Linked DNA regions of Homo sapiens: region 1 is linked to region 2. The links come from fine-mapping of genetic effects on plasma protein levels. A gene starts in region 2. The other region holds a variant in brackets. All regions are shown on one strand. Distances are between the middles of the regions.

Region 1 (5,365 bases), 72 kb after region 2:
AGAATTCTTCCTGTTCATTGGCCATCGGTCATGGAGAAGGCGGGCTCAGTGGACGAACGGCTTTCTGGGAGCTGGGGAATGCTTGCGTAGCGTAGTTTCCCAGCGAGCCCCGCGAGGACTTCCGGCGCCGGGAGCTCGCGGCGGAAGTGGGATCTCCTGGGCCGTAGTGGGCGTTGTGTGTTTCGGGGGCGGGGGCGGGGGCGGGGGCCGGGGCGGGGACGGGGCCTCTGGCCGCCTGGCTCCAACATCAAGCACCGGGCTCCGAGTGGCCGGGATCAGCGCCCCGAGGCAGAGGCCGGAGGGCGCGCGCACTGCTAGGAAGTGCTGGTCCCCCGCGCCGCTCTGCCAGCTTGGTCCCCCGGCAGACGCCCCTGTACGATCGCCGCTCGCCCCGCGGGCGAGGCTGCGGTGGACAGCGCGGGGCTCCGGCTGGCTCGCCTTCCCGCCTGCCGTGTCCTGCTGAGCGACCCTGGTGAGTCCTGGCCCTCTTCGAGGAAAGTCTTCTTCGAAGTCACCAGAGGATGAGAATGGTGCGCGCACCTTTCAGGGGTCTTGTGAGGAGCAGAATAAATAAAGTGCTTAGGATGGACTAAAGAATTGGAAACAACCCGAATGCATCACTCGAGTATTGATTAAGAAACTAGAGCATATCCATACCGCGGAAGCTCATAGTGCCGCTAATGTCTGTGCAGTAAGGTCTCATTTATGTAGAAACACATCAAGCACCTTTTCTCCCCGCTATGGATGACTTTTTTAGTAAAAGCACAGGAAAAGGTCTGGGACGTCATTTGTCAGACTGTTAAGTCGGGGGGTACAATGGTATTGAGGAAGGGAGAGTTTTACAGATTTCTATATTGTTTGAATCTTCCCTTTTTTATTAAGATGGTTTGTATTTTTTTCATTTTCTTTTTACTTTTCTTTTCTTTCTTTTTTTTTTTTTTTTGAGATGGTCTCACTCTGTTGCCCAGGCTGGAGTACAGTGGTGCGATCATAGCTCATTGCAACCTCAAACTCCTGGACTCAAGCAATCTTTCCTCCTCAGCCTCCCCAGTAGCTGGGACTACAGGAGCCCCACCTGGCTTTTTTTGTTTTTTGGTACAGATGGCGTCTCACATTGTCTTCCCAAAGGGGTCTTGAACCCCTGGCCTCAAGCAATCATCCTGTGTCTGTCTCCCAAAATGCTGGGATTACAGGCATAAGCCACCAAGCCCGGCCAGTTTGTATTTTTATTGTTGAAACAAAAAATCGATTACTGAAAATTGCATAATACACTTTTCAGTAGAGAGTAACAATGTAAGGTATAAATGTGTCATACATTTATATGTACCTGTGGATAAATGGCTTTGGATGGTGTCTGTAAGCCCTTCTGTGACACCTCAGGGCCAGATGTGTTTTGGAATTCAGAGGTTTTCAAATTTGAGAAAGATAATATAGTGCACAGACGATATATCAAGCACATCTCCAGAGGGATCTGGGGCAACACTAAATAATGAAACATATCAGTTAAAATTTTTTAATTAGGCCGGGCGCAGTGGCTCACGCCTGTAATCCCAGCACTTTAGGAGGCCGAGGCGGGTGGATCACAAGGTCAGGAGTTTGAGACCATCCTGGCCAACATGGTGAAACCTCGTCTCTACTAAAAATACAAAAAATTAGCTGGACGTGGTAGCTGGTGCCTGTAGTCCCAGCTACTTGGGAGGCTGAAGCAGGAGAATCGCTTGAACCTGGCAGGCAGAGGTTGCAGTGAACTGAGATTGCGCCACTGCACTCCAGCCTGGGCGACAGAGTGAGACTCTCTCTCAGTAAAAAAAAAAAAAAAAGATATTTAATTGATGTATAATGTGCAATACAGAAAAACACACGAGTGGGTATAGCTCAATGAAATTTTATAAACTGAAGATATATGTTATTAATATTTCCACCATAATTTTGAACATTTACATTTAGTGGAATAAATTGAGATTATAAATATGCTTATATCAGGTCAGGTGGTGCTGCCAAATGAATGACATTGGGTTTTGCTGTCAAAGAGTTATGAAACACCCGGGTTTTGGATTTCTGGCTTTGGGATGAGAGCTTGTGGGCCTGTGTTAATAGGAGAGACAGTCACATGAGCAAGGCATTACAGTAAAGCCTAGAAAAGGCTTCAGGGCCATGAAAGGATGGGGACTGGATGGCTCTTCAGCCTGGGGTTTGCTCGTGTATTCCACATCCTTCCTCCTCAGTCCTGCCATTTTGCTCTTTCCCCAGGAGTACACATCCAGATGCCAGCCCAGCTACCACAGGGGATCCCTCTGGGAGACTGAAAGTACAGGTTCTGGGGCCCAGGTTGAAGCCGACCAACCCTGAGCCTCAGGCCAGGGGAATGGCAGCCCCCTTGGAGGCCCAGGACCAGGCCCCTGGGGAGGGAGAAGGGCTTCTGATTGTGAAAGTGGAAGATTCCTCCTGGGAACAGGAATCTGCCCAGCATGAGGATGGCAGGGATTCCGAAGCCTGCCGCCAGCGCTTCCGGCAATTCTGCTACGGGGATGTGCATGGGCCTCATGAGGCCTTCAGCCAGCTCTGGGAGCTCTGCTGCCGCTGGCTGCGGCCCGAGCTGCGTACCAAGGAGCAGATCCTGGAGCTGCTGGTGCTGGAGCAGTTCCTGACAGTGCTGCCAGGGGAGATCCAGGGCTGGGTGCGTGAGCAGCACCCGGGAAGCGGTGAGGAGGCTGTCGCCTTGGTGGAGGACCTACAGAAGCAGCCAGTGAAAGCCTGGCGACAGGTGAGGGGCCCTTCCACATCCAGGGGCACCTGGATGGTATCTGAGCTC[G/A]AGAGAAGTGGGTAACCTGCAGAGATAAGTCTCCCAGAGGCTCACAGGGTAGGGGAGACACAGAGCCCCCAGGAGCAGGCACACAAGCACAGTGTGCCATGGGTGCCTTTCTGAAAGATGCGATCCAAAGTAAATGTGATTTATTTTTTGTGGCTTTGGAAGGCAGCAATAGGGCTGAAGTGCGAATGTTCCAGACAGGAGGTTTTAGCTCCATGCAGGGTCTGCTGATGTTTATTTGCATTTTGCTCTAGGCCTGGCTCTGGGGACACAAGGGTGTGCATAGAGCCAGCTCCAGAGTGGGGCGAGAAGGTGGAGCTGTCCGGGGCCTCTGCTACCTTGTGGGATGTTGGGTCCTTCACATTGGATGCATCTGGGGAGGTTCTAATGAGTGGCTGGGGGATGGGGTTCTGCCTTTGGCAGGAGGGTCCCCAGCTACCCCCTTGCTAAGTGGCTGTGATTCTGGCCTTTCAGGGCTGGTTCTTGCCTCGTGAATGATCGGGGAGCATCCTTGGGCACACAGCATTACCTGGTATCACATTCTCCTCCGGACTTTTCCTGGGGCACCATATTGGTCTCCTTCCCACACCCCAGCATCCTGAGGGTCATGTCCTGTGTCTCCTTCCCAGGGAGTAAACTCTGTCTCCCCCGGTCTGGTCTCGGGCTGATGAGCATGTTGTGGTTCCTGCACAGGATGTGCCCTCGGAGGAGGCGGAACCCGAGGCTGCAGGCCGGGGATCCCAGGCCACGGGGCCTCCCCCGACGGTGGGGGCACGGAGGCGGCCGTCTGTTCCCCAGGAGCAGCACAGCCATAGCGGTGAGTAAGCCTCCGTTCTTGTGGACAGTCGAGTGGCTGGGCAGGGACCTAGCTTTGTCACCGGCGTTGCCCTAAGGGTCACAGGCAGGACAGCTCCCTCTGTGAAGTCCAGGGCGTGTGTGCATGCGCACAGGCTGGGGAGGCCATAGGCGTCGGTGTCAAGCCTGGGCTGGCCTTTCTAAGGCTCCATTCTTCTCCTTCAGCCCAGCCTCCTGCTCTTCTTAAAGAGGGTCGTCCCGGAGAGACGACGGACACCTGCTTTGTCTCTGGGGTCCATGTGAGTCACCAGTCCCTTTGTCTTCTTTAAGGCACTTGGCCCTGTTGAGTTTGTAAAATGGGACTTGCTGTCCCATCAGGCCTCTTTCATCTGACCCATCCTGTCCCCGCCAGTGCTGCTGGGAGGCCTGAGCCGGGTCTTCTCACCCCATTCCAGGGACCTGTGGCATTGGGAGACATCCCATTCTATTTCTCCCGGGAAGAATGGGGCACCCTGGACCCTGCTCAGCGGGATCTCTTCTGGGACATAAAGCGGGAGAACTCCCGGAACACCACCCTGGGTAAGCACCCAGGGCCTTTGGGTCCAGGCTGGCCGCCCCCGATTCTGCTGGAACTTCAGTCTTGTTTCCCACCCCATCCTTAGCTGGTTCCAAAGCAGGCTCTCCCTAGGTCTTGCCAGGAGCCTGAGTAACTCCTTTCTTGGCTGATGATCAGTTTTTGTGCGTTTCCACATGCAGCATGGGACGGCGCCGGCGCTGCCCAGCCCTGCAGTTGCTCTAAGGGCAACTTCTCCTTTGAGTCTCACAACCTAGTGCATGGAAGTATTGTCCCCATTTTACGCATAAGGGACCTGAGACTCAGGTCAGTGGATGCTGAAGGGACACAGCTGGGACTTGGATCAGGCACAGTTGTGAGGCCACCTTGGGCTGCTAGGAGCAGGGGTGCTGACGGGGAACCCCAGCTGCTCACCAGCCTGGGCCCCTGCTCGTCAGAACTGCACTTACCAGGTTCCTCTCCATGCCAGGCCCCTTCTCAGCACCATCAGGGATCATCTTGTTCAGTCACACTCCCAGGAGGATGGGCTGCGACCTCTGTCCAGATCTGTGTTGAGTTTGGAGAACTAGAGCCTGCGTGGTGAAGGGAGCCACACTAGCTAGACCAGTTTGGCTCCTCAGTTTCCGACTGTGACGGTTGGGAAAAATTTTCTTTCTTTTTTTTTTTTTTGAGATGGAGTCTTGCTCTGTCGCCAGGCCGGAATGCAGTGGTGTGATCTCAGCTCACTGAAACTTCCACCTCCCGGGTTCAAGCAATTCTCCTGCCTCAGCCTGAGTAGCTGGGATTACAGGCATGAGCCACCATGCCCGGCTAATTTTTTTGTATTTTTAATAGAGACGAGTTTTCACCATGTTGGTCAGGCTGGTCTCGAACTCCTGACTTCATGATCCGCCTGCCTCAGCCTCCCAAAGTGCTGGGATTACAGGCGTGAGCCACCGCGCCCGGCCCTTGAAAAGTTTCAGAATTACTATAAATCTGTTCTGCTGTGGAGCTTGATATCTGGGGTTCAGAGTGGGACATTGGATCCCAGTGTGGCCTGCAGGGCACAGATGGCTTAGGGGGCTGGCCCATGCAGGCGGGATCAGAGGCTTATTCAGACTGCTGCTCTGCCGAATTTTTTCATCATCCCTGATTTATTTGGGTTTTTGTTTGTTTTTGAGACAAAGTCTCGCTCTTGGAGTGCAATG
Region 2 (5,365 bases):
GCTCATGCCAGTAATCTCAGCATTTTGGGAGGCCAAGGCGGGCAGATCACTTGAGGTCAGGAGTTCGAGACTCCTTGGCCAACATGGTGAAATCCCATCTCTCCTAAAAATACAGAAATTAGGCCAGGCTGAGTGGCAGAACAAGACTCCACCTCAAAAAAAAAAAAAAAAAAAATTGTCACGTGATACCATTTCAGCCCATTGGGATGGCTGGAATTGAAAAGACACAGAGAATAACAAGTATTGCTGAGGTTGTAGAGACACGGGAACCCTCGCACACTGCTGCTGGGAATGTAAAATGACAGACATTTTGAAAAATAGTCTGGCTGTTCCTCAAAAGGATAAAAACACATTTACCATGTAACCCAGCTATTCTTCTGCTTCATACATATGAAGTGAAAACATACGTCTGCACAGAAACTTGTACGTGAATGTTCATAGCAGCATTATTCGGAATTAGCCAAAAAGTGGAAAGAACCCAAATGTCCTTCGAGGGGTGAATGGAGAAACCAAATGTGGTCTATCCACACAGTAGAATATTATTCAGCCAGAAAAAGGAATGAAGGAATAATGCGTGTTACAACACGGATGAACCTCAAGAATAGCATGTTCAGTGAAAGAAGCTAGACACAGAAGATCACCTAGTGTATAATTCTACTTATAGGAAATGTCTGGGAGAGAGGCATCCATTGAGAGAGAAAGTAGATGAGGCCAGACACAGTGGCTCATGCCTGTAATCCCAGCACTTTGGGAGGCCAAGGCGGGCAGATCACTTGAGGTCAGGAGTTCGAGACTCCTTCATCAACATGGTGAAACCCCGTCTCTACTAAAAATACAAAAATTAGCTGGGTGTGGTGGCACGTGCCTGTAATCCCAGCTACTCGGGAGGCTGAGTCAGGAGAATTGCTTGAACCCAGGAGGCAGAGGTTGCAGTGAGCCGAGATCGTGCCACTGCCCTTCAGCCTAGACAACAGAGCGAGACTCTAAGAAAAAAAAAGAAAAAGAAAAAGTAGATGAGTGGTTATCCAGGGAAATGAGGACTGGCAGTGATGTCTCAGAAGGGCAGAATTTCTCTTAGAGGTGATAAAAATGTTCTAAAATGGGTTGTGGTGATAGCTGCACAGTTCTGTGCTTTGAATTGTACAGCTCAATGAGTGAATTGCATTGCCTGTAAATTGCATCACCATAAAGCTATAAAAACAGGGTACATACAGTCTGGGTGGATCCCAAGATGTCTTCAGATGGTGGCCTTTGAGAGTCATGAGGGGCTAGGGTTGGAGCTGAAGCCTAAAGCATGACTTTTAGCTGGTGCAGGAGTGGCTTCCTTCTGTCTCCCACTACAATTCAGAGGATACTCAGGGAAAGATCTGGACATCCTGTATGTGGAAAGGCGGTTGCGCACAGTGGAATGGACTCCTAAGTGGCAGGCAGGTGACAACCGTTGTCTACTTCACCCAAGGGAAGATTTCTCCATGGAGCGTGTTTTATAGGTTCTGTCTCTCCGAGTCCCCTTTGAGAATATAATGGGATACATTGCATCCATGCTGAATTCCTAAGCCCCAGGACCTCAGAATATGCCCTTATTTGGAAACAGGGTCTTTATGGAGGTACTTAAGGTACAATGAGGTCACTGGGGTGGATCCTACTTCTTTTTTTTTTTTTTCCGAGGGGAATTTTCATTGTTGTCCCCCAGACTGGAGTGCAGTGGCACCATCTCAGCTCACTGCAACATTCGCCTCCCGGGTTCAAGTGATTCTCCTGCCTCAGCCTCCCGAGTAGCTGGGAATACAGGTGCCGGCCACCACGCAAGGCTAATTTTTGTATTTTTAGTAGAGACAAGGTTTCACCATGTTGGCCAGGCTGGTCTAGAACTCCTGACCTTAGGTGATCTGCCCGCCTCGGCCTCCCAAAGTGTTGGGATTACAGGCGTGACCCACTGCGCCCGGCCTAGGGTGGACCCTATTTCAATATGACTGGTGTCCTTTGGAAAGGGGAAAGGGGGACAGTCACACCCAGGCAGAACGTGATGAAGATGAAGATGGCCATCTACAAGGGCAGGAGAAACCTGAACAGAATCCCAGCTCCGGGCCCTCAGAAGGACCCCACGCTGCCCACATTGACCTTGGACCTCCAGCCTGCAGATCGTGAGGGAAGAGACGTCTTCGACTTAGGGCCCCTTGTCGTGGTACTTCCTTAGTTTGGCCCCAGGAAACCATCCCAAAGGCAAGGGCGTGGTTGTGCTCAGCTGGGGGAAGGGGGCTGGGGGCCGTGAGGAGGAGGTGGGAGGCCCAGCCAGGCTGGAGGGTCAGAACCCGTGGAGCTAGAAGAGCCCGTAGGGGAGCCCCAAGATTGCTGAGACCAGTGACCTTCGGCCCCAGATGGCCTTGCCTTGGCCCAGAAGGGTCAGAAGGACCTGGTCAGCCAAGCTCAGACAGCCGGCAGGATGCCTTCCACCCTGCAGAGGGTCCTATCTTGTCCCACAGGTAGATCTACATCACCACTAGCCACCCCTCCAACGTGCACAGGCCCCTGCCCTCACGGCGCCCCTCTTAGGTCCGGCAGTTCCTGCCTCCTTCTGATCCAGAAGTTTCTCTGGCCTCTGGAGCCGGGGCACACCTCATGCAAGGACAGGGTCCAAATTCCTTTGTCCTTGGATCCCACTTGGCTGACGTCACCTTCCTGTACTCAGGGAGTTTCCCCAGCCAGCTGTCCCGAGTCTGGACTTTCCCTCTGCCCCTCCCCACTCTCAGGCTGGTGGGGTGGGGAAAGCAGCCCATTCCTGGGCTCAGAGACTCCCACCCCAGCTCAGAGGGAGCAGGGGCCCAGCCAGGGACGGACCCTCATTCCTCCCAGGGACCCCAGACCTCTGTCTCTCTCGGGTAAGTCTCCATCTCTGTCTGTCTCTGTCTCTGTCTCTGTCTCTGTCTGTTTTTCACGCACTCAGCAAGGCCTCCTGCCCTGAGAGAGGCTCCGCCCACTACCCCCCACTTTCCCCATAAAACCAGCTGAGTATTTGTGCCAGGAAGACTGCGTGCAGAAGGTGACTGTCTCAGTGGAGCTGGGTCATCTCAGGTGGGGAGTTGGGGTCCCCGAAGGTGAGGACCCTCTGGGGAGGAGGGTGCTTCTCTGAGACACTTTCTTTTCCTCACACCTGTTCCTCGCCAGCAGGCCTTGGCTCCTTGAACTTTTGGCCGCCATGTGCTTCCCGAAGGTGAGTGAGAGGCTGCGTGTGCTTTTGTGGGCATGTCTGAAAACAGACCGTAAGGGTGCGGGTGCCCTCAGTATTTCCCGAGGTGCCTGTGTGTCAGGGCTCAGTCAGGGGCACCCAGCGGCAGGAGGATAGTGATGGGGTGAGAGTGTCAGTGGAGGCGCTGGAGGTCATATGTGTCGGGGGCGCTGGAGAACGGCAGGGGTGTGGATGAGAGGGAGCACCTGTCCCAGGAGCCCTTCACAGCCCGGAAAGCCCGGGGCAGGGGTGGGGCAGGGCTCTGCTGGAAACGACTCGGAGAATGCTTCTCTCAGAGGCCGGCTCAGCTGGGTGGGCCCAAGAGCAAGGCCTGTGTGGGTCCTGGTGTCTCTTCCTCCTTTCCTGGGTTCCCTCCGACCTCCCATCCTCTACCACTGCCCCACCGCAAATGCTAGGCCCACCACACCCTCCAGGGAGCTCTTCGGCCTGTGACAATAGGGGTTTCCATGATGTGGCCTGGCTCAGGTTCAGGACAGTGACCCGGAGGACACATGGCTCCCGCATGTCGGCACGGTGCTGCTTTCACCCTGGTTCCTGGGAAATCAGGCTAGCGGGATGGGACCATCGCTGCCTGAAAGTGTGCAGACAGCTGCCCTGCCCAGAATATGTCCCCAGGCCCTGCGCACTCTGTGGGTGACTGTCACCACTCTATAGTGGGGGAAACCAGGCATGTCACCCCCGAGACTAGGCCCTTGACGTGGGGGCTCAGCGGGGATTCTGTGGGGTGCCTCTGGCCTCTGTGGATGCAGCCACGTGTCTGCAGGCAGGAATGGCCCGGGACCTGTGGGTCTGCATGTTGGCAGTCGGGAAGAGTGGCAGGTTGTAGGGTGGACCTACCTGGCACCCCAAATATTAATCAGCTCATCAGAGAGGAATGGCTGCTGTTACCTTCTCAATTGTCATGTCCCTAAACATTTTTTCCTTGGCCAACTCTCACCTGGGACCATAGTGGTTGTGGGAAACCCAGCTGAGCCAGCCTGCTCCAGGACAGTGTCCATCCTCCCGTGTGTGTACATGGGGGGGTGTGTGTGTGCAGGGAGGACACCCCGGCCCACGCAGGCCCTGCTCTTGTGAGGAGGGGTCACCTAGGCCCACGCAGGCCCTGCTCTTGTGAGGAGGGGTCACCTAGGCCCACGCAGGCCCTGCTCTTGTGAGGAGGGGTCACCTAGGCCCACGCAGGCCCTGCTCTTGTGAGGAGGGGTCACCTAGGCCCACGCAGGCCCTGCTCTTGTGAGGAGGGGTCACCTAGGCCCATGCTGGCCCTGCTCTTGGGCCTGCCCAGCTGAGCCGGCTCCTGAGAGAAGCGCTTTCTGAGTCGTTTCGAGGACAGCCCTGGCCGGTCTTTCCAGGCTGTGAGGGGCTCCTGGGACTGCTGTCTCCTCTTATCCTGTACCTCTGCCATGTGTCTCTGTGTGTGTGTGTGTGTGTGTGTGTGTGTGTGTGTGTGTATAAATTATCCTGGAGGAAAGGTTAAGGTGACACATGGAGACTGAGTGTCACCGTTATTTCCGCAGGTCCTCTCTGATGACATGAAGAAGCTGAAGGCCCGAATGGTAATGCTCCTCCCTACTTCTGCTCAGGGGTTGGGGGCCTGGGTCTCAGCGTGTGACACTGAGGACACTGTGGGACACCTGGGACCCTGGAGGGACAAGGATCCGGCCCTTTGGTGCCAACTCTGCCTCTCTTCACAGCACCAGGCCATAGAAAGATTTTATGATAAAATGCAAAATGCAGAATCAGGACGTGGACAGGTGGGTGGATTTCCCCTCAGGCACCAGGTCACATGTCCCCGCCCCCAGGCACTCCACCCTGTGTGGGGCTCAGGGTGAGAAGGATGAAGAGGGACCCACAGGCTCCCTCACCCCTTACCGTGGGCAAATGCTTGCACCTGGGTGGCAGTGAGTGGGCGGGTGGGGGATCTGGACGCCCGGGGAGACTGAGGGAGGCATCCAAGCCCCAGGGCTCCTTGAGGAAACAACAGGGGTGCCAGACGTGGCCCGGGCCCCTGGCTGGGCCCAGTTCGGGGTGTGTGGGAGCTGAGGACTCACTGGGCTTGAGGACTGACTGATGTGGGGTGCAGAGGAGGCTTGGGCCTGGAACCGAGTGCTTTGTTCCTAA

Alleles and levels. Positions count from the first base shown, and alleles are read on the strand shown. Strength reflects both the effect of a copy and how common the allele is.
For the plasma level of the protein whose gene starts at base 3,025 in region 2, A is the low allele of the variant in region 1 and G is the other (weak association).

What was found. PIP is the chance, under the fine-mapping model, that this variant and not a neighbour inherited with it causes the effect. The UK Biobank Pharma Proteomics Project read protein levels with antibody pairs (Olink). The fine-mapping took linkage between variants from a reference panel, not from the people measured, so its PIPs are less certain.
Region 1: its variant is fine-mapped to the plasma level of the IL32 protein (UK Biobank, PIP above 0.99).

The regions. Positions count from the first base shown.
Region 1 is chr16:3,134,916-3,140,280 of GRCh38, forward strand. It overlaps ZNF213 (zinc finger protein 213), which reads left to right and starts at 114. Exons shown (of 6, transcript NM_004220.3): 1 at 114-472; 2 at 2,251-2,764; 3 at 3,503-3,626; 4 at 3,830-3,903; 5 at 4,060-4,183. The coding sequence starts at 2,366. RefSeq lists enhancers at 1-64, 3,549-4,049 and a silencer at 175-404. The variant G/A (reference allele first, on the strand shown) is at 2,813.
Region 2 is chr16:3,062,616-3,067,980 of GRCh38, forward strand. IL32 (interleukin 32) reads left to right here and starts at 3,025. Exons shown (of 7, transcript NM_001376923.1): 1 at 3,025-3,072; 2 at 3,169-3,211; 3 at 4,762-4,800; 4 at 4,939-4,998. The coding sequence starts at 3,197. RefSeq lists enhancers at 2,519-2,828, 5,167-5,365.